Linked DNA regions of Homo sapiens. The gene in region 1 interacts genetically with each later gene. Each region holds a gene or a part of one and is shown in the gene's direction. Other genes may lie near its edges.

Evidence for each region. Genes that interact genetically often act in the same process or in processes that back each other up.
Region 2: changes in AURKA (region 1) and TCOF1 together harm fitness more than expected from each alone (negative genetic interaction), as found in Homo sapiens cells (one large-scale study listed by BioGRID).
Region 3: changes in AURKA (region 1) and ATXN10 together harm fitness more than expected from each alone (negative genetic interaction), as found in Homo sapiens cells (one large-scale study listed by BioGRID).
Region 4: changes in AURKA (region 1) and ABCB7 together harm fitness less than expected from each alone (positive genetic interaction), as found in Homo sapiens cells (one large-scale study listed by BioGRID).

What each region holds. Positions count from the first base shown.
Region 1 is NC_000020.11:56,368,890-56,373,789, reverse strand, and holds the end of AURKA (aurora kinase A), read left to right. Parts: intron 1-233; coding exon 234-382; intron 383-3,130; coding exon 3,131-3,305; intron 3,306-3,449; coding exon 3,450-3,632; 3' UTR 3,633-4,400; downstream 4,401-4,900. UniProt on the Homo sapiens protein: Mitotic serine/threonine kinase that contributes to the regulation of cell cycle progression.
Region 2 is NC_000005.10:150,373,849-150,378,735, forward strand, and holds part of TCOF1 (treacle protein), read left to right. Parts: intron 1-325; coding exon 326-538; intron 539-768; coding exon 769-963; intron 964-1,105; coding exon 1,106-1,315; intron 1,316-1,490; coding exon 1,491-1,706; intron 1,707-1,872; coding exon 1,873-2,061; intron 2,062-2,233; coding exon 2,234-2,482; intron 2,483-2,574; coding exon 2,575-2,772; intron 2,773-4,887.
Region 3 is NC_000022.11:45,841,986-45,846,346, forward strand, and holds the end of ATXN10 (ataxin-10), read left to right. Parts: intron 1-1,005; coding exon 1,006-1,193; intron 1,194-1,683; coding exon 1,684-1,686; 3' UTR 1,687-3,322; downstream 3,323-4,361. UniProt on the Homo sapiens protein: May play a role in the regulation of cytokinesis. May play a role in signaling by stimulating protein glycosylation. Induces neuritogenesis by activating the Ras-MAP kinase pathway and is necessary for the survival of cerebellar neurons.
Region 4 is NC_000023.11:75,061,745-75,066,631, reverse strand, and holds part of ABCB7 (iron-sulfur clusters transporter ABCB7, mitochondrial), read left to right. Parts: intron 1-1,390; coding exon 1,391-1,562; intron 1,563-4,200; coding exon 4,201-4,304; intron 4,305-4,887. UniProt on the Homo sapiens protein: Exports glutathione-coordinated iron-sulfur clusters such as [2Fe-2S]-(GS)4 cluster from the mitochondria to the cytosol in an ATP-dependent manner allowing the assembly of the cytosolic iron-sulfur (Fe/S) cluster-containing proteins and participates in iron homeostasis.

The sequences.
Region 1 (4,900 bases):
TTGTAGAGATGGAGTCTTGCTATGTTTCCCAGGCTGGTCTTGAACCCCTGGGCTCAAGTGATCCTCCCACCTCAGTCCCCCAAAGTGTTGGGATTATAGGTGTGAGCCACTGTGCCTGGCCAAAACCTGCAAACCATGTTAAATCTATGTTGTGTTCCTTTCGGAAGAGATGTCTAATATTAACTTGTGTTATATAAAATCTAAAACATAGGCTTTCAATATTGTTTTAACAGTATATAACAGAATTGGCAAATGCCCTGTCTTACTGTCATTCGAAGAGAGTTATTCATAGAGACATTAAGCCAGAGAACTTACTTCTTGGATCAGCTGGAGAGCTTAAAATTGCAGATTTTGGGTGGTCAGTACATGCTCCATCTTCCAGGTATGTAACTTTAGAGGTGGAAGTTGTTTGGTTTACCAAAGCCCTGGGAGCTAACCGTGAGCTAAATGTAAAATATTTCAGTGTAGATTTTGTGCTGTAAGAGGGGTAGGTGGCTAACCCAGAAGTACTTTGGAGTAATTTAGGCTTAATAATAAACTAGGGTTTGCAAGAAAGTGTTATTCTGTGGAGATTTGGGGCTATTAGCAGTGTTCTAGGCCTAGGGTTGAAGATGCTTAATGTCCTTAGAGGCTAATGAAGGGATGAATGAGTCAACAGATAGGACACGTATATGACAGAGGTGAAGTGCCCACATGTTGAGTGGGAGGAACTCTTCACCTCTGCTGCTTCCTGGATGAGGAGATGGGGAGATGGTTCAGAGGACAGCACTGACAAAGATCTAGAGCTCAGAGTGCAGGCCATATCAGGGAACTTGAAACACTAAATTAGTTTGGTGGTGCTTTGAGGGCAGTGGTGAGAGATTCTCTTCAGTCTGCCTCTGTCAATAGTAGGGATAGTCCTTTCTTATCCCCTGTCACAGCTGAAGCAGAGATGTCAGTCTCAAAACAATTCAAATCTTAGCTTTCCAAGTGAACTACAATATCTTTACTGTTTTAAATTTGAGTTTAAATAAGCTTTGAAACTTCACATGAAGTGGGGCATTTTAAAACATATATCTACCGATGAAGTTTTGTCAACTTTGGAGGAGGACTCAAATTATAGCCAAATGACTTAAAAATCAAGCTAGTTAAAAAAAAAGTATAGCCTAAAATAGAATATGAGGGAGAAAACCTTTGCTTTTGTTACAGAGCACTTCTAATTGTTCCAGCAATGCACTGAATCTGCTATTGCAGTCTTTTTTTTTTTTTTTTTTTTTAAACTGGTTGTCATTAGTGGGAGCTGTTATCTGGTGAGACAAACCAGAATAAAGACTTACAGGCTTCATGGAATCGCAGAGTTAAACTGTATCTTAACCGGTTGAATTGTGATAGAAAAGATGGCTTCTTGCTTTTTGAAAAGATTACTTACATAACCGATAGTCACTTCACTCCAAATCCCAGATGTTAATCATCATCATTTCCTGGTTATTGCCTCAGTTTGAGAACCCCCGATTCAGTCCGTCGGTGCTGATGGAGGGGTTAGATGACCAGAGTGGTAGCTTCTTAATCCTACGTCACAATTCAGTGGTGAGTGACTGTTTGTGTGCTCAGTGGGTGCCAGGCCTGGCTGAACACAGCACCAGGGCTGTGACCACGTAAGCCTCCATGGTGAAGAGCAGCTGATAACAAAGCAACACGAACCCACACAGACTGTTCTGGCTTGCTGTCTGCTGTTCCCAGCTTTTTTCCAACCTTCGTTAAAAAAACCTAAACCGATAAAAATGCGGAATTGGTAGTTGATGGCATACCTGTCTATACAGTGCCTACGTTCAGCAGTTTTTCCCATTTAGTCAGAAGGGCTGCATCTGCTTTTTTAGTGAACACTTGAAAATACGTTGCAAACATCATGATGCTTCAACCTTAAGCACTATAATAGAATGCATTTCCTAAATAAGGATATTCTCCTATATAACTAGAACCATGATCACTCCTAAGAAAATTAACAGCATTGTCAGTATCTAATATTTAGTCCACATTCAGATTTCTCCTATTGTCCATGACATCTTATAGCTGGTTTGTAAAATCAGAACTCAACCAAAGCCCATGCTTTGTATTGGACTGTCTATGTGGTTGGATTGTCTCTGTGGTTGGACTGTCTCTGTGGTTGGACTGTCTCTGTGGTTGGATTGTCTCTGTGGTCTAAAGCCAGACCAGTCTCCCACTTTAAAGAGGACTTTTCTGATTGTGTTGCCACTTAACTTGGACCTTTATTCCCCGTATTTGCTGAAAACTGGAATGTAGGTCTCAGGTCCTGAAGAGATTCAGGTTAAGAAAATTTTTTTTTTTTTTTGAGACAGAGTCTCGCTCTGTCACCCAGGCTGGAGTGCAGTGGTGCGATCTTGGCTCACTACAAGCTCGCCTCCCGGGTTCACGCCATTCTTCTGCCTCAGCCTCCTGAGTAGCTAGGACTACAGGCGCACACCACCACACCCGGCTAATTTTTTGTATTTTTAGTAGATACGGCGTTTCACCATGTTAGCCAGGATGGTCTCGATCTCCTGACCTCGTGATCCGCCTCCCTCGGCCTCCCAAAGTGCTGGCATTACAGGCATGAGCCACTGCACCCAGCCAGGTTAAATATTTTTGGCAAGAGTACTTCATAGGCCACCCTCAAAATTTCAGCATCACTCGTACCAAGTATCTATCACAAGGCAGCATGTGTCTACATCTCCACCCCAGTGCTGTTACAGTGGGACAGTTTCTAGTGTATTGTCATTGCGACCAGGCTTTTAAGATTCTTAGCATATCTGTAATATCCACATGCAGATGTAGAATCCAAATCGTATTTACAGAGAACTTTGCATGGCAGCTTTTATATGGTAGTGATACATTCAGTTTCTTACATTCTAGATTATTCAGGGAGGTTCTGGAGTTGGACAGATTTGGGGTTAAGCCTGATGGCTAGCTGTGTGACCTTACACACCTCGCTTCATCTGTTTCCTATGGGAATTTATAATAGTAGCTACTTCCTAGGGCACAGGATCTGGCCCAGGGGAAGACCTCAGTGTTAGTGGACTCTTTAATGATTGTTAGCAGCTGTTGTGATCATAAAACGAGAAGCACATCAACCTGAGCCTCCCTCCGTTTTCAGGAGGACCACTCTCTGTGGCACCCTGGACTACCTGCCCCCTGAAATGATTGAAGGTCGGATGCATGATGAGAAGGTGGATCTCTGGAGCCTTGGAGTTCTTTGCTATGAATTTTTAGTTGGGAAGCCTCCTTTTGAGGCAAACACATACCAAGAGACCTACAAAAGAATATCACGGGTAAGACGCAACTGAAAAGGACCCAGCACATCTGCTGGAATTCTTTCCTTATCAGCCTGAACTGCAGGCCAAGATCCGAACATCTATACTATTTGATCTCTCTAACCTGTGTTTTGTGATATTTTATCATTTGTTGTACTCCAGGTTGAATTCACATTCCCTGACTTTGTAACAGAGGGAGCCAGGGACCTCATTTCAAGACTGTTGAAGCATAATCCCAGCCAGAGGCCAATGCTCAGAGAAGTACTTGAACACCCCTGGATCACAGCAAATTCATCAAAACCATCAAATTGCCAAAACAAAGAATCAGCTAGCAAACAGTCTTAGGAATCGTGCAGGGGGAGAAATCCTTGAGCCAGGGCTGCCATATAACCTGACAGGAACATGCTACTGAAGTTTATTTTACCATTGACTGCTGCCCTCAATCTAGAACGCTACACAAGAAATATTTGTTTTACTCAGCAGGTGTGCCTTAACCTCCCTATTCAGAAAGCTCCACATCAATAAACATGACACTCTGAAGTGAAAGTAGCCACGAGAATTGTGCTACTTATACTGGTTCATAATCTGGAGGCAAGGTTCGACTGCAGCCGCCCCGTCAGCCTGTGCTAGGCATGGTGTCTTCACAGGAGGCAAATCCAGAGCCTGGCTGTGGGGAAAGTGACCACTCTGCCCTGACCCCGATCAGTTAAGGAGCTGTGCAATAACCTTCCTAGTACCTGAGTGAGTGTGTAACTTATTGGGTTGGCGAAGCCTGGTAAAGCTGTTGGAATGAGTATGTGATTCTTTTTAAGTATGAAAATAAAGATATATGTACAGACTTGTATTTTTTCTCTGGTGGCATTCCTTTAGGAATGCTGTGTGTCTGTCCGGCACCCCGGTAGGCCTGATTGGGTTTCTAGTCCTCCTTAACCACTTATCTCCCATATGAGAGTGTGAAAAATAGGAACACGTGCTCTACCTCCATTTAGGGATTTGCTTGGGATACAGAAGAGGCCATGTGTCTCAGAGCTGTTAAGGGCTTATTTTTTTAAAACATTGGAGTCATAGCATGTGTGTAAACTTTAAATATGCAAATAAATAAGTATCTATGTCTGTGTGGAGTGCTGTGTAATTCTTTCCACCATCTGTTCATTGTTGGCCTGGAAATGAGCAGGGGCTGAGAGGAGCAGGTCTCGCCCTCATCTAGTCCTGCCTCTTCTGGTCTCTCCTGTTGGGTGTACTCCTAATACTTCATTATATATATTGTTTATATATTTGTCATATCTTTGTCATCTGTCCATCGACTAAAGATACGGTGAAAGTGACTGTGATGAAGGAAAAGTAGAAGTGTTGAACTTAGAGCTAGTAGAGAAATCTGCTTGCATGGCCAATGCTCAGTGCAAGAAACTGGACAGCAGGTATGTCAGGATATGTCATAACAAAGTGGCCAATATAGAGAAACTTAAAAACATGACTCAGTAAAACTGCAGCTGCCAGCCCCCTTGGGACAAAGGGGCTTCTGGTTCTCATAGTCTTGAGCTGAACTGACTTTGACCTTCCCAAATAGTTCATGTGCCACCCTCCCAAGCTATAGTTATTATCACGTGACTGAC
Region 2 (4,887 bases), on another chromosome or scaffold:
GGCTCTAACTACCCAGTGTGCTGGGGCACCAGGGGGAACCATGTTAAGGAAGTGGTGTCTCTTAGGGAGCCAGAGACAGAGGAGGCAGTGGCTAAGTGAAATGGAACAGGGGGCATGGAGGCTCCAGGAGTGAGAGTGTGTGAAGCTGATCGATTTTTGAGAAACCAGGAGGCCAGTGTGGCCAAAGTATCAGTCAAGGTGGGGAGTGGGGAGGGAAGCAGGGGAGGTCTTAGGAGCCTCATTAAGGCCTCTGGACTTTATCCTAAAGGCATCACCAGAGAGTTTTCACAAGCAGGAGAGCAAGCTGCCCTTTCTTTTTCACCAGGTAAAGGCCTCTGAAAAAATTCTCCAGGTCAGAGCTGCCTCAGCCCCTGCCAAGGGGACCCCTGGGAAAGGGGCTACCCCAGCACCCCCTGGGAAGGCAGGGGCTGTAGCCTCCCAGACCAAGGCAGGGAAGCCAGAGGAGGACTCAGAGAGCAGCAGCGAGGAGTCATCTGACAGTGAGGAGGAGACGCCAGCTGCCAAGGCCCTGCTTCAGGTGAGGCCTGAGGAGGGAGACTCCATGCAGCCAGGCCCGTCCCCAGAAGGCCTTCTCAGGACTTGTTCTCCCACTCTGGGCCAGAGCCCCGGGCGTGCCTCAGACCCCAGCCCCTTACTCCCCTCTCACTGTGTGGCATCATTTGCCCTATCTGGTCTTCTGTACGTGGTGTCCTGTGTCTCCTCACACGTCCATCCTCTGGGCTGTCTCCCCTTGTCTTGTTTCTCCAGGCGAAGGCCTCAGGAAAAACCTCTCAGGTCGGAGCTGCCTCAGCCCCTGCCAAGGAGTCCCCCAGGAAAGGAGCTGCCCCAGCGCCCCCTGGGAAGACAGGGCCTGCAGTTGCCAAGGCCCAGGCGGGGAAGCGGGAGGAGGACTCGCAGAGCAGCAGCGAGGAATCGGACAGTGAGGAGGAGGCGCCTGCTCAGGTGAGGCAGAGGGGAGGGGTGGAGAGTAGCCCCATGCCTAAACCCCAGCACCTGCATGGGTGTGGCCACCTTTGCCACATCCAGCTCCTGTCTCCACACGTCCACCCTCTGGGCTCTCCCCTCATCCTGTTTCTCACTCCAGGCGAAGCCTTCAGGGAAGGCCCCCCAGGTCAGAGCCGCCTCGGCCCCTGCCAAGGAGTCCCCCAGGAAAGGGGCTGCCCCAGCACCTCCTAGGAAAACAGGGCCTGCAGCCGCCCAGGTCCAGGTGGGGAAGCAGGAGGAGGACTCAAGAAGCAGCAGCGAGGAGTCAGACAGTGACAGAGAGGCACTGGCAGCCATGAATGCAGCTCAGGTGAGGCTGGAAGCCGCCCTGCATGGCCTGTGCCCTGCCTCAAAAGACCTCCTGTGGTTTTGACTTTTCCTCTCTGAACCTAGAGCCCTGTGCGGCTGGCTTCGTTTGCTCTCCTCCCCTCACTCACATTCTCCTTCTGGACTCCCTCCCTAATCTTGTCCTTTGTGTCTCCCAGGTGAAGCCCTTGGGGAAAAGCCCCCAGGTGAAACCTGCCTCTACCATGGGCATGGGGCCCTTGGGGAAAGGCGCCGGCCCAGTGCCACCCGGGAAGGTGGGGCCTGCAACCCCCTCAGCCCAGGTGGGGAAGTGGGAGGAGGACTCAGAGAGCAGTAGTGAGGAGTCATCAGACAGCAGTGATGGAGAGGTGCCCACAGCTGTGGCCCCGGCTCAGGTGAGGCCCCTTCCTGTAAGGCTCTTTCTTTTTCCCCCCCACTCAGAGTGGAGCTGCCTGTGGCCTCCCAACCTCACACTGGGACTCTGTCTACAATCTTAGTTTCTTAATGTCTGCACACACCTACCCTGGGCTCCCTCTCCCGATCCTGTGTATCTCACTCCAGGAAAAGTCCTTGGGGAACATCCTCCAGGCCAAACCCACCTCCAGTCCTGCCAAGGGGCCCCCTCAGAAGGCAGGGCCTGTAGCCGTCCAGGTCAAGGCTGAAAAGCCCATGGACAACTCGGAGAGCAGCGAGGAGTCATCGGACAGTGCGGACAGTGAGGAGGCACCAGCAGCCATGACTGCAGCTCAGGTGAGGCCTGGGGAAGGAGGCTGCTACATGGCCTGATCTGCCACACCACAGTCAGCACCCCCGGGGAGCTGTGCTCCCTCAGGCAGAGCATGGGTTTTGGCTGGTGGGGCAGAACAGATGGGGGACTCTGAGTTCAGGAACCTTCTCCAGCCTTTCTTTGGTGTCCCCTCAGGCAAAACCAGCTCTGAAAATTCCTCAGACCAAGGCCTGCCCAAAGAAAACCAATACCACTGCATCTGCCAAGGTCGCCCCTGTGCGAGTGGGCACCCAAGCCCCCCGGAAAGCAGGAACTGCGACTTCTCCAGCAGGCTCATCCCCAGCTGTGGCTGGGGGCACCCAGAGACCAGCAGAGGATTCTTCAAGCAGTGAGGAATCAGATAGTGAGGAAGAGAAGACAGGTCTTGCAGTAACCGTGGGACAGGTGAGGCCTGTGTTTTCTGGGCGGGCCTCAGGGCCGCCCCTACGTGGTCCTTTGGACTCCTGGAGACACCTCTCTTCCCCTTGTCATCCCAGGCAAAGTCTGTGGGGAAAGGCCTCCAGGTGAAAGCAGCCTCAGTGCCTGTCAAGGGGTCCTTGGGGCAAGGGACTGCTCCAGTACTCCCTGGGAAGACGGGGCCTACAGTCACCCAGGTGAAAGCTGAAAAGCAGGAAGACTCTGAGAGCAGTGAGGAGGAATCAGACAGTGAGGAAGCAGCTGCATCTCCAGCACAGGTGAGGCCTAGAAGGAGCAGGCCCATCCCACCCACACCTGTTCCTGAGCCAGGGCTGAGGATGGGCTTGACTGGGGGCTAGTGTTGCCTGCAGGTGTGCAGAAGCCTCAGAGGTAGCCTCAACACAGCTTCCTTCCCTATCTTTCACTCCATGTCTCCTCTGCCCATCAGAGCTCCAGGGTCTCTGTCTTGTTTGCCTTTTGAGGTCCTCCTGCTGATTGATTCCCTGTGGTTTTCACAAGCTCTGGAGTTCCCACCCTGCCAGGTGCTGCCCTTGTCTGGGGTTGCTGAGGCGCTGTTCCTCAGGGAAGTCCTGTCTCTGTGGAGCATGGACATGCTCCTGCAGTGTGGAGCGATGGGGTTGAGATAGAGGGTGTGAGCCTGGGCTGCGCAGCATGACAGGTGAGAGCATCTAGGCCTTTTACAGGAGGTGGCAGCATCTGAGCCATGGGCTGAAAGAGTTGGCCAGGTGAAATGGGCAGGGAGAGTGTTCCAGGCAGAGGAAGCAGTCTGTGCGAGGCCAGGGAATGAGAGAGTGCCTGGCTTGGGTGCCTTGCCACAGGCGGCACATTGTGGTGGGATGGCTGGCAGTTGTTTAGAGCCAGACCGCCTGGGTTCAAGTTTCAGCTCCACAGCCTGGCAAGTGCTGTAAGCCCTCAGAGCCCTTACTCTCCTATAAACAGGAAATCAGCCCTCACAGGTTTGGGTGAGAATTTAGGTGAGATCTCACCTGCTACACCCAGCAAGGGAGCTGCACACAGCAAGTTGTCTCTGTCACCCTGACGATGGGCCAGGCTAATGTGGAACAGATCAGGAGTGAGGTCTCCAAGCCTGGAAGAGCTGAGAGAAGATGGCTCACTCCCTGCACTCACCCACCCACTGTTTATTATTTTTAATTGTCGCTCTGTTTTTTTCTGTAACCACTCAGAAATTAGTCATTTCTTTTTTCTCTGTACCAGAGCACACATTTCTACTGATTTTTTTTTGTCCTCCTCTCGTTGACTTGTGGGACCTCAGGGCTCTAGAATTCCTCCATTGAGGTTTTTAAGCTCTGCAGGGGCCCCTTCCAGAGCCGCCTCTACTCTTTCCCAAGCTGCAGGCACATTCCAGACCCAATGCCTTACAGAGTTTCATTATGCAGCTCACTTAAATATTTGTCTTCCCTTCTGAGCCTCCCACCTGTACCATGAGGTGGGTGTTTTATTTTTATTTTTTGAACCATGGGCTATTTTGAAGTAAGCCGTTTAATTTCCAAATATCTGGGATTACCCAGGTTTCTTTTTGTTGATTTCTAATTTAGTCACATTGTGGTTGGAGAACATATTTTGTATGATTTAAATCCTTTTTTGTGTATTGAGACTTGTTAGGTCAAGTCAGTCTTGTGTCTTGTTTCTTGTGGAAAACATGGCTCCCCTCTGGAGGATTTACGTGCTCTACTGATGAGCACCTCGGCCTGAGTCATACTTGGTCCACACTGTAGGGAATCTTCTTGAAGTCCTGATTCTTCACCTCATTTGACCTCATGTGTTTGAGGAATGCTGGGGGATGGGGTTGTTTTCTGACACTGACCAGATGCCATCCCTGAGTGAGGCAGGGGCCTTGAGATGCTGCCAGAGTCCTCATTCTGTTTCACATTAGGCTTGCTGTCACTCCTGTTAAGGATCTCACTCTGGGAATTTCCCTTTTTTTTTGTTCTCCTTCTATTTGTTGGAATCCCTGACAGGCCTTTTGGGGGTTCTCTGGATATCGGTTAAGGCTAGATTAAGCTGAAGAAAACCTTAAACAACAAGTATCTTGTTCTGCCGTGGCTGCTTGAGCTCCAGCTCTGACCTCAGCATTCCATCTAGCCTGGAGGAGGAAGAGACATGTTTCTGACCTTTTATGGCACTCAACTTACATCCTATGAGCCAGAATTTAATGACATTGCCACCTAGCTGAAAGGGAGCCTGGAAAACATCTGTTTTAGGTAGTCTTGTGCTTAGCTAATGCTAAGGAAGGCACGCACAATGAGTTTGAGTGTTTATTATGTTCCAGACATCATGTTAAACTCTGAATCTCCTATTTAGTCTTCATCATAACCCGTAGGTGGGCCTTATTATTATCTCCATTTGATAGA
Region 3 (4,361 bases), on another chromosome or scaffold:
AGGACTTGTTTGTCTTGCTGCCTTTATCTGCTCGTGGGCAGGGAGGTCTCTTTCTTTGGATAGGTATTTGTTCTACCCTAGGTTCTTTGTTGTTCTCCCTGGATCAGGGTGCCAGGCCCAGTAGGGACACAGCCTCTCTTGGCAGTCTCTTACATATGTCCCTGGATCCAACCACTGAAGACTGGTCCCTGCAGTAGTTTTTGTACAGTCCTTTATAGAACTACATATAATAGCTTAATGTTTGCATGAGGTTTACATGGCTCTTGGTGATTAAATCAAATGCCCTACTCAGTGATGTGGCGATGCTATCCCAGTCTTCGTAGGTTGTCTCTGGTCTCCTGCCAAGCGGAACGTGCCAGGTGAACACTTGGGCACAGTGAGCCCCGATGCTTTCAGGAGCCTGAGTATTCAAACTAAACACAGCAAATCCTTCAAAGCCCTTCCAGCTTCATCTTTAGAATACTGAATGCGGGAAATTCCACAGTGACTCCTAGGAAACAATTCTTATTTCTAACTGGGCTCCCATTAAAACAAGATGATTTTCCTGATTCTAACCTGACGTCTTTGTGACTGATTCTTTAGTGCTCTTCTTATTCTTTCCCTAGTGAGTCAGTAACATAATTATTCAACAAAGGAATGTGTGTGTGTGCACGCACACACGTTTGCCTGTGTGTGTGTTCTTGGGTTCATAAACTTCAGTTTGAGCTACTCTAAGTCTTTGCTTCCTTGTTCATTCATTCAACAAATACTGAGTAAATCTCTCTGGGTGCCCGTGGCTGGACATCACACACACATGCTGGATGTACATGTGCATATGCCTGCGTTGCCTCTTTTTAATGTGTTTGCACTTGAGATGCATATTCAGAGAATGCATCCTCAAGAAAACTTGTGGATTGATACTGGATGTTCCGTGTTTCTGTGCTCCTCTACTCCTTTTCTGATAATTCTTATGTGAAGTTATCAAACAGGAAAGTACGTTGTCACATTCCTTCACTCTGGCTCCAGTTCTGACCCAGTGGGTGATATATGCCATCCGAAACCTTACCGAAGACAACAGCCAAAACCAAGATTTGATTGCAAAGATGGAGGAACAGGGGCTGGCAGATGCATCCCTACTTAAAAAAGTGGGTTTTGAAGTTGAAAAGAAAGGCGAAAAGCTGATCCTGAAATCTACTAGAGACACCCCTAAGCCAGTAAGTACCCTCGAGGGAACTGTCCTTCCCTTTGGTTTGTAGAAAGCTGTTTCCACTTCCCCATTGCTTCAAGCACGAGGCTCTTTGTAAGAATATGGATGGGAGAATTGTGCCCTCTATAGTGGTTTACCGAGGAAAGCCCTAAAGATAGCTGCAAACGGTTTTTTTGTTCCGGCTTTATGCTGCCATTTTCTTAAAAGAGGGACAATTTCAAACTCATTCTGGGTGAGAAATACAAAAGGCATATCAAAAGTTATACATGGTCTAAAAGTAAGTTACTCATAGGAATTAGATTTTCTTTAAAAGATAGTTAATGTTCACTATAGTTTAAAAAACAGAACTCCTTGAATAATATTGCATGAATTGTTTTAGGTTTCTCTAAGTTATTTGTCACCACTGACCAAAGTTCTGGGTTTTTTCCCCTTTTGTCTGATGAATCTTGTGAACAGATTTGCTACATCTGCAATTTTGTTTCTTTCTTCTTCTTTAGTGAATGAACTACATCCAAATACCTGAATTTTTGGAATCTGTTTCATGGATTTTTCATCTTCTACCGTATGTGAAATTGCAAGTGTTTGAAGATTTATAAGTACAAATTTGGGAACATACAAATCTTTTAGGTAGTAGAGTTTAACGTGTATAAGCTAAAAGTGAAAGTAACTGAGTGTTCTCTTGTTTCTTTGCATTAATGTAACTGTGTGGTTTGCCTTTGTCCCCCTGGATAGAACGTGCATTTAAAGAATATATTGTACTTACTGTGACAGCAGATAATAAACCAGTCTCTTGGAGGGCACAACCCTTATTTGACAAAACTTGGATGTTGGCTTGACTGTGTTTGTCCCTTCAGATGGCAAGTCAGCATCATTCTTTATATTCCTCTTCTCATTGGGTTTTCTGAACTCTGGCAGGCGGTTGAAGTAGTTTCTCACTGTGATTAATTCTAGCAATCTCTTTTCACCCCTCTGCCTTTCCAAAACATTGACAAGACTCATTTCCAGTTAATTAATTCGAGAACCCTCCCTCTTCATTTTGGGTACTGGGCTGTCTTGTCACTGAGCCCTATCCCTTTGGAATGTGGCAGGGAGTGAGGTTGGTGAGAGAACATGTGGGCACTTAACTCTTCATGTTCCAGTTCATCCCAGAAGTAGACATCCCAGGACCCATTCTGTGTCAAGGTGAATGCCTGTGTCCTCCCCAGCTTCATGCCTCTGTCATGGGGGAAGGAATAGCTTATGTTCTGCTCTGGTGCAGTGCCGTAGATTAAAGGTACATTTCTATCTTCTTTGATTTAAAAAGCACCAGTCTCATAAAGGTGCCACTCAGTTTTAGCCATGTCTTCACTGAAATTGCAAAAGTACTTTTAGGGAGCAGGAGTTTATTTGACATCTAGTTATCTGTCTGTCTGTTCATCTATCTATCTGTCTGCTGTATGAGAGGTAGGACTGGATTAAATGACCACTGAACTCACTGAATCCAGATCATTCATATCATCAACAAAAGCTCTAGGGGGAGGTCACGTTGTGAATGCTTAAAACATATTATTTTCTTCAACAACCATATCGCTAAACTAATATATCCAGAGATTTTGCACAATTCGTGTTGAACCTTCCAAAACAAAAATAAAGACCTGTCCAAAAGTTTTGACAAAAATACTGATTGCTCCCAAATAAAGTGCTTCTAAGCTTTGTGTAGACATAGTTTAACTGATTTGTAAAAATAGCTTAAGCATGTTGAGAATGAAGTAAAAGTTTTCCCATGTGCTGTCTAATGTACTCTGTGTAACTCTGAAGACACATCAGCTTCTAGGATTGCAGCAATCTATGAATAACATTTTTTCTCTCATTTATGACTTTCCATCAGTAAAGAAGCCATTGCAGAATTTAAAATTACACAAAGGAGTCATTCTCTCCTGGGACATAAAGAGTTAAAGCTCTGTCCTCTAAATAGAAGCCTGGCCAAAGGGAGAAAACAGTGGGAGTCCCTTTTCCCTTTTAACAAGTTTGCAATAGACACTTCTTTTTTTCCTGTCTCAATGGATGTGTGCACACCAGTGGAATCGCACAAACTTGTCGGTATGAGCTATATAATAACAAACACAAATAAATAAAAGGGAGCCTTGTGAGAATACAGAATGGGGTAATGGTTATGTGTTTTCTAAGTAGGAAGTGTGGGGCTTGCATAGTGAAAACATGCTGATGACTGCATTGTGGCTGCCTTTGATTCCCTCGGATGGATTAATTCTTGAGCACAACAGCTTCCCTGTCCTCTACCGTGGAGGACTCGGAGCTCCTGAGAACCTTGTTTTACATGCTATAGAGGATTAATCATCACCTCAATCAGTCATTTAGAAGGAAGAAAAAAGCAGGCCAGCCTTACAAAATTTGTAAAGAGACAGAATGGTCACAGCAAGTTTTGTGACCATATTATTGCTTTCAAGAGCGAGCTGACAAAGCTTTTAGCTGGCTTCACTTTAAAAGATAGAGGGGAAGGCTTCTCAGCTTGATACTGAGTCCAAGTATTTGCAGAGTGATTATTTTTTAATACCTTAACAATGGATGTGAAGATTTCAAAAATACTTATTTTTGCAATCTTAAAACAGTCGGCTCTCTGTATCCACAGATTGAACCAACTGGGGATTGAAAATACTCAGGAAAAATAAAATAGTAGTACAACAACAAAAAATAATACAAATTTTAAAATACAAGGTAACAACTATTTCCATAGCATTTACATTTTATTAGGTGTTACAAGTAATCTGGAGATGATTTAAAGTATGTGGGAGAATGCGGGTAGTTTATATGCAAATACTGTGAAGGCTCATATCAGAGACTTGAGCATCCATAGATTTTGGCATCCAAGCGGGGGTTCCTGAAACCAATACTCCACAGATTTCAAGGGCCAACTTACTAAACTGTTAGGATTTGTTAATATTTGTTCATTGTCCTCCTGCCCCAGCCGTGTAAGACATGCCTGCTTCCTCTTCTGCCATGATCCTAAGTTTCCTGAGGCCTCCCGAGCCATCCTTCCTGTATAGCCTGCAGAGCCATGAGCCAATTAAACCTCTTTTCTTTATAAATTATCTAGTCTCAAGGAGTTCTGTGTAGCAATATGAGAACGCACTAATACAACGTCCTGATTTTGTGGTTCTGTTCTTGTTTTTGTTTTTAG
Region 4 (4,887 bases), on another chromosome or scaffold:
AGATACATATAGATAATTATATTACTGTAGAGAAGCAAATTAACATGTCCATCATCTCACAGTTACCCATGTTTTTGTGACTAGAGCAGCTAAAATCTACCCATTTAGCAGAAATTACACCAAAAAAATCAGTATTTATTTTATATTAGTTTTTATATTTTCAAAATTTCCATCTAGCACATTTAGCTTTTTCCTAAATATAAATTATTTTAAAATAAGCAGTTTCTGTTTATACAATGAGCTTATTGAGTTTAAGTATTGTCTCAATATGAGAAATTTTATTAATAGGTATATAAATGATTTAAATACTATTTAAAGCAATATATGAAATTTTTGGTCTGATTATGATGTTAAAGAAGATGGGTATCCTGGTTAATGTGAACAAATGGAGTCATTTTATTTCACCTAACCATAGCCTTCCAACCGTTTAGAGATTGAAAGAAAAATGGGAGATGGATGCTCACTTGAAGTAAATTAGCTTTAGTGTGCCATGTGAGAATAAGTTGAAATATCAAATGAATGCTTGAAGTGAACTTTCTCCAAAAATATATATATTGCATAAATTATTTGTTTTCTGTTTTAATATCAATGTCAAAGCTTCTTAGAAACATAGGAAAACATATTCAAACCTCGTTAGTAATTAGGGAAATGCTAATTTAAACAAAAAACACATTTTTCCCCTAAGAATAGCAACACCTAAAAATTATTAATATCCAGGGTTTCTGAGTATATGAGGAACTGGCACCCTCATATGCTATTGGTTAGCGTGTACTTATACATTATTGGTTGCTGGTAGGGCCATATTTAGAAGACATTTGGGCAATAATATCAAAGGATAAAAGTATGCTTACCTTTAAACTCATCAGTCTACTTCTAGGAATTCTTACAGAAACACACAGTTGTACAAAGTCATATACATAATGTTTTATTCCAACATTGTAGTAGCATAAACTTGGAAATCACATTAATGTCCATCAGTAGGAGAATGTATAAATAAATTATGACATTTCCATAGTATGGAATATACAACTGTTAAAAAGAATGAGTTAGTTTTCTGTTATTGACATGGACAATCTCTATGATATGTTAACTGAAAAAAGCAATTGCAAAATAATATGTGTAGAATGACCATACTTGTGTTAGGGGAAAGAAACATATGTTTAGGTATATAAATTCACAGGAAGAAGTCTGGAATGATGCACACTAAATTGTTTATGATGACTACCCCTGGGAAGGGAATGGGATTTTGCAGATGAGGGATGATGAAAGGGACTGTCATGTTTTACCCTTTATGCCTTTGTCTCTTTACTATTTGAATTTTTAATAATGAACATAAATAGAGAGAGATATATAGATATAGATATATATTCATTCAGTATATCTGCTTCAGGATGCTGTCCTCTTCCATAATACTATTTATTACAACCTCTTATATGGAAACATCAGTGCTTCACCTGAGGAAGTGTATGCAGTGGCAAAATTAGCTGGACTTCATGATGCAATTCTTCGAATGCCACATGGATATGACACCCAAGTAGGGGAACGAGGACTCAAGCTTTCAGGTGATCAGAGATTTTAGACCTGCCCCCTTCTTGTATACTTCTTTCAAACTCTAATTTGTCAGAGCCATTTTTTAGAAAATGTAATGAGAGACTTCAAATGTAGTGCTCGTTGAGTCACATTTGATTGGGTTACTAATCTCCTAGCCCTCACTATAACCAATTCAACATATTAGTAACTATTCTCAAGTCATGCAAGTCTTTTTTTTTTCACTTGCAGCTGCAAACACTGTAGGTGTTTGATATTAAGTAAGTTATCAAAATATGCTCAGATCATTACTAACTTGTTATCTACAATCTTCATGATAAAGGAAAAACAAGATCGTTCTTTACCTGGGAAAGTAGTAAGGTTAGGGAGAAGTAATTTGATAACGAATAGTGTATATCTCTCATCATAACTTCCTAGATCATTAGAAGATGTTTTCAGTACTTGAGACCTCTTTATATTTGATCCTGTTAACTGCTATACTTTCCTTACAGCCAGATTCATTTTCATGTCCTTTGTTCTGTGGCCAAGGATATTTTGAGGCTTATACATTTCTTGTTAAATGTTTAATTATGAGATTGCTAGGTTTAAGAATGAATTACCCTAAAATGACTGATTTTTTTTTTGGAGGACACAGAAAAATGTTTCTTTACCCCCAAATTATTTGAATTCAAAAGTATAGCAATGTCTAGTTTAGTTTGGGCAGGAAATGTATCGATTATAGATAGAGGTAAGGCAAAAATAGAATGAGAAATACTCTATATGAATTTTAACGAATCCACATTCCTCTTCATTATAAACTGGCTTCATTTATTAGATACACACTATGTGCAAGCTACTATGCTAAATGATTTGAAAGTTAAAAAAATGAAGCATAAACAGGCCTGTTATTCAGGAATTGGCAATCTGTTAGAAAGTTTTGGGCTAGGTTTAGAAAATTTTAAGCAAAGATTATTTCCAAGTTAAGTTGATTGGGTCATTACCTGGTAGTATAAGATGCCAGTATCATTCCAGTCCACATTTACACTTTATTACTGCTTTTAATAGGAGTAATTTCCAGTTATCTGGCCCACCCCCAAATTATGTGTCCGTTTGGCTAATTCTGGCGATCCCTAATTTATCACGTAATATGAACTAGCCCTCTTAATGCATGACTTTGCCTCAGCCAGCTATGCTGTGTTCCATTTTCTAATCTTATTTTTCCTTTCTGCATGCCTTTGAGGGATAGGAATAGCTAAAGAAATTTTATTCTTACCTATTTCTCATTTCCTTATAACCAAACCTCTCAAAATGAGCAATTTATTATTTATCATCTATGCTAATAATTATGTTAGAGAATAAACAGACATTTCTTCTCCAAGTTCCAAAATACCGTTGAATAGAATTACAACTGAGTTGGTTTCCACTTGAAATTTGAGAGGCACTTCAAAACTAGTCCTTCCTCTGAATATCTACTTCTTTGAGGAACTTTCTGCTACTGGGCTGATAGGTAGGCGGGAAGATAGTACTTATGGTACCTGCCTTGTTAGGAGAATTTTGATCCTGTGAGGTGGGGAAGCGTATGGCTAGCATAAATATAAACTTACTAATATTAAAAATAAGGAACCCCTTTATAGGCCAAAGATAATAATTGTAGAATAAGTAAAAATAAAAATATTTAATGTACCAGGTAATGGATAGAGCTTATTTCCTAATAAGCTGAAAAATATGTTTTTCAGATATTGGTAATGTATAATAGACAAGAAAAGAAGCCAAAAGGGACATAGTCAGCAGAGTACCATCTTCTGTACTTCCAACTATAGTTCTATATAAGATTGATGACCTTAGACCTACAGTAGTCTCAGTAATAAAGGTTTCTATACATTTCACTACATATTTTCACTGTTTATTTAAGAAATACTTTCTAAATATTTATTCTTGTATTTAGGAATAAATGTGGGCTTACACATTGTGATAAGAAGAGCATTGGACTGAAATGGGTCTAGTCCAGATTCTTGCTCGGTGACCTTGAGCAAATCACTTAACTTTTCTGGGCCTATATCCTTTCTATTTTAAAAATTTGATATGCTAGAGACCTATAATAAATACCTGAATAAAGGAAAAGATATCTAGTGTATGCCTTTAACTTTGAAGAATGCTGTGAAAATAATAGCTTTCTATCAAAAAACAATCCTTGAGAATACTGGCTGAATGCTACTTTTTTATCTTAAGAGACGAATTCAGTTATTCATAGTTTAATGTCTTCAAGTTTCAGGTTTCAGATATTGATTTTTTTGGCATTGTCAATTCTGTCATTGAAATTTTTCTGAGATTGCAGTTCATTGAGAATTATCTGTAATATAAAGTAACATATAATGAGCATGCTTCTGGTAGAAGAATAATAGTAGAATCAAAGTTGTTACCTTACTGCCTCATTCTCATTCTTCCCACCTGCTATGAAGTCAGAATTCAGTAGTGCATTCATGTTTCAGGGAATATAATTTGTCAAAAGATATTGTATATGAACTTCAACTCTACAACTCAGTAAAATGAACTGTGATCAGGAGAATAAGGAAATGTTCAGTGTATTACTTGGTGGTTGTAATCAATGGAAACACTAAAAACATAAAATATGCATGCACTATGCTTCCTTAAAGTAAAATTTTCCTTTACCAGGAGGAGAAAAGCAAAGAGTAGCAATTGCAAGAGCCATTTTGAAGGACCCCCCAGTCATACTCTATGATGAAGCTACTTCATCGTTAGATTCGATTACTGAAGAGGTAAGTTATGATTAAAATATAAAGCTCTTCAATGTTTAACTTTTCTACTTGGAAGTTTCAGTAAAATGGCTGCATTACTTTGTATTTTGAATAAACTTCAATAGTAAGTGCTATAGAGCAAAATGCCTATCCCCCTTTTTCCATATGGCAAGTGTTGATGGTAAGAATACCAGGTTGTATTGAACTAGAGATACCACAGTGTTAAGTCCATTTGCAAATGTGTCTCCTTTTGGAACTATGTGATACCTTATGCTGTTGTTGTATTGCCCTTGCATCTTACAAAGCTGTAGGAATCACCTGATATGCTGACAAAGGAAGAAAGTTTTAGTCTCTCTCCTATTGCCACTTAACACTCATTAAAATAGTCATGGAAGTGATTGTGAAACCTGTGACATGGTACATACCAGAAAGCCTTTCACTTATCATGGAGCGACTCATGAGATGCAAGTCAGGCACACACAACCTGCAGTGCTGGTATCAATTTGTATTCATTTCACTGGAAGTGTTATGAAACACCAAGATGTGACACTGATGTCAATGACATTGCCCCACAGCTGCATTAGATTTTATAGCAACATCTTTA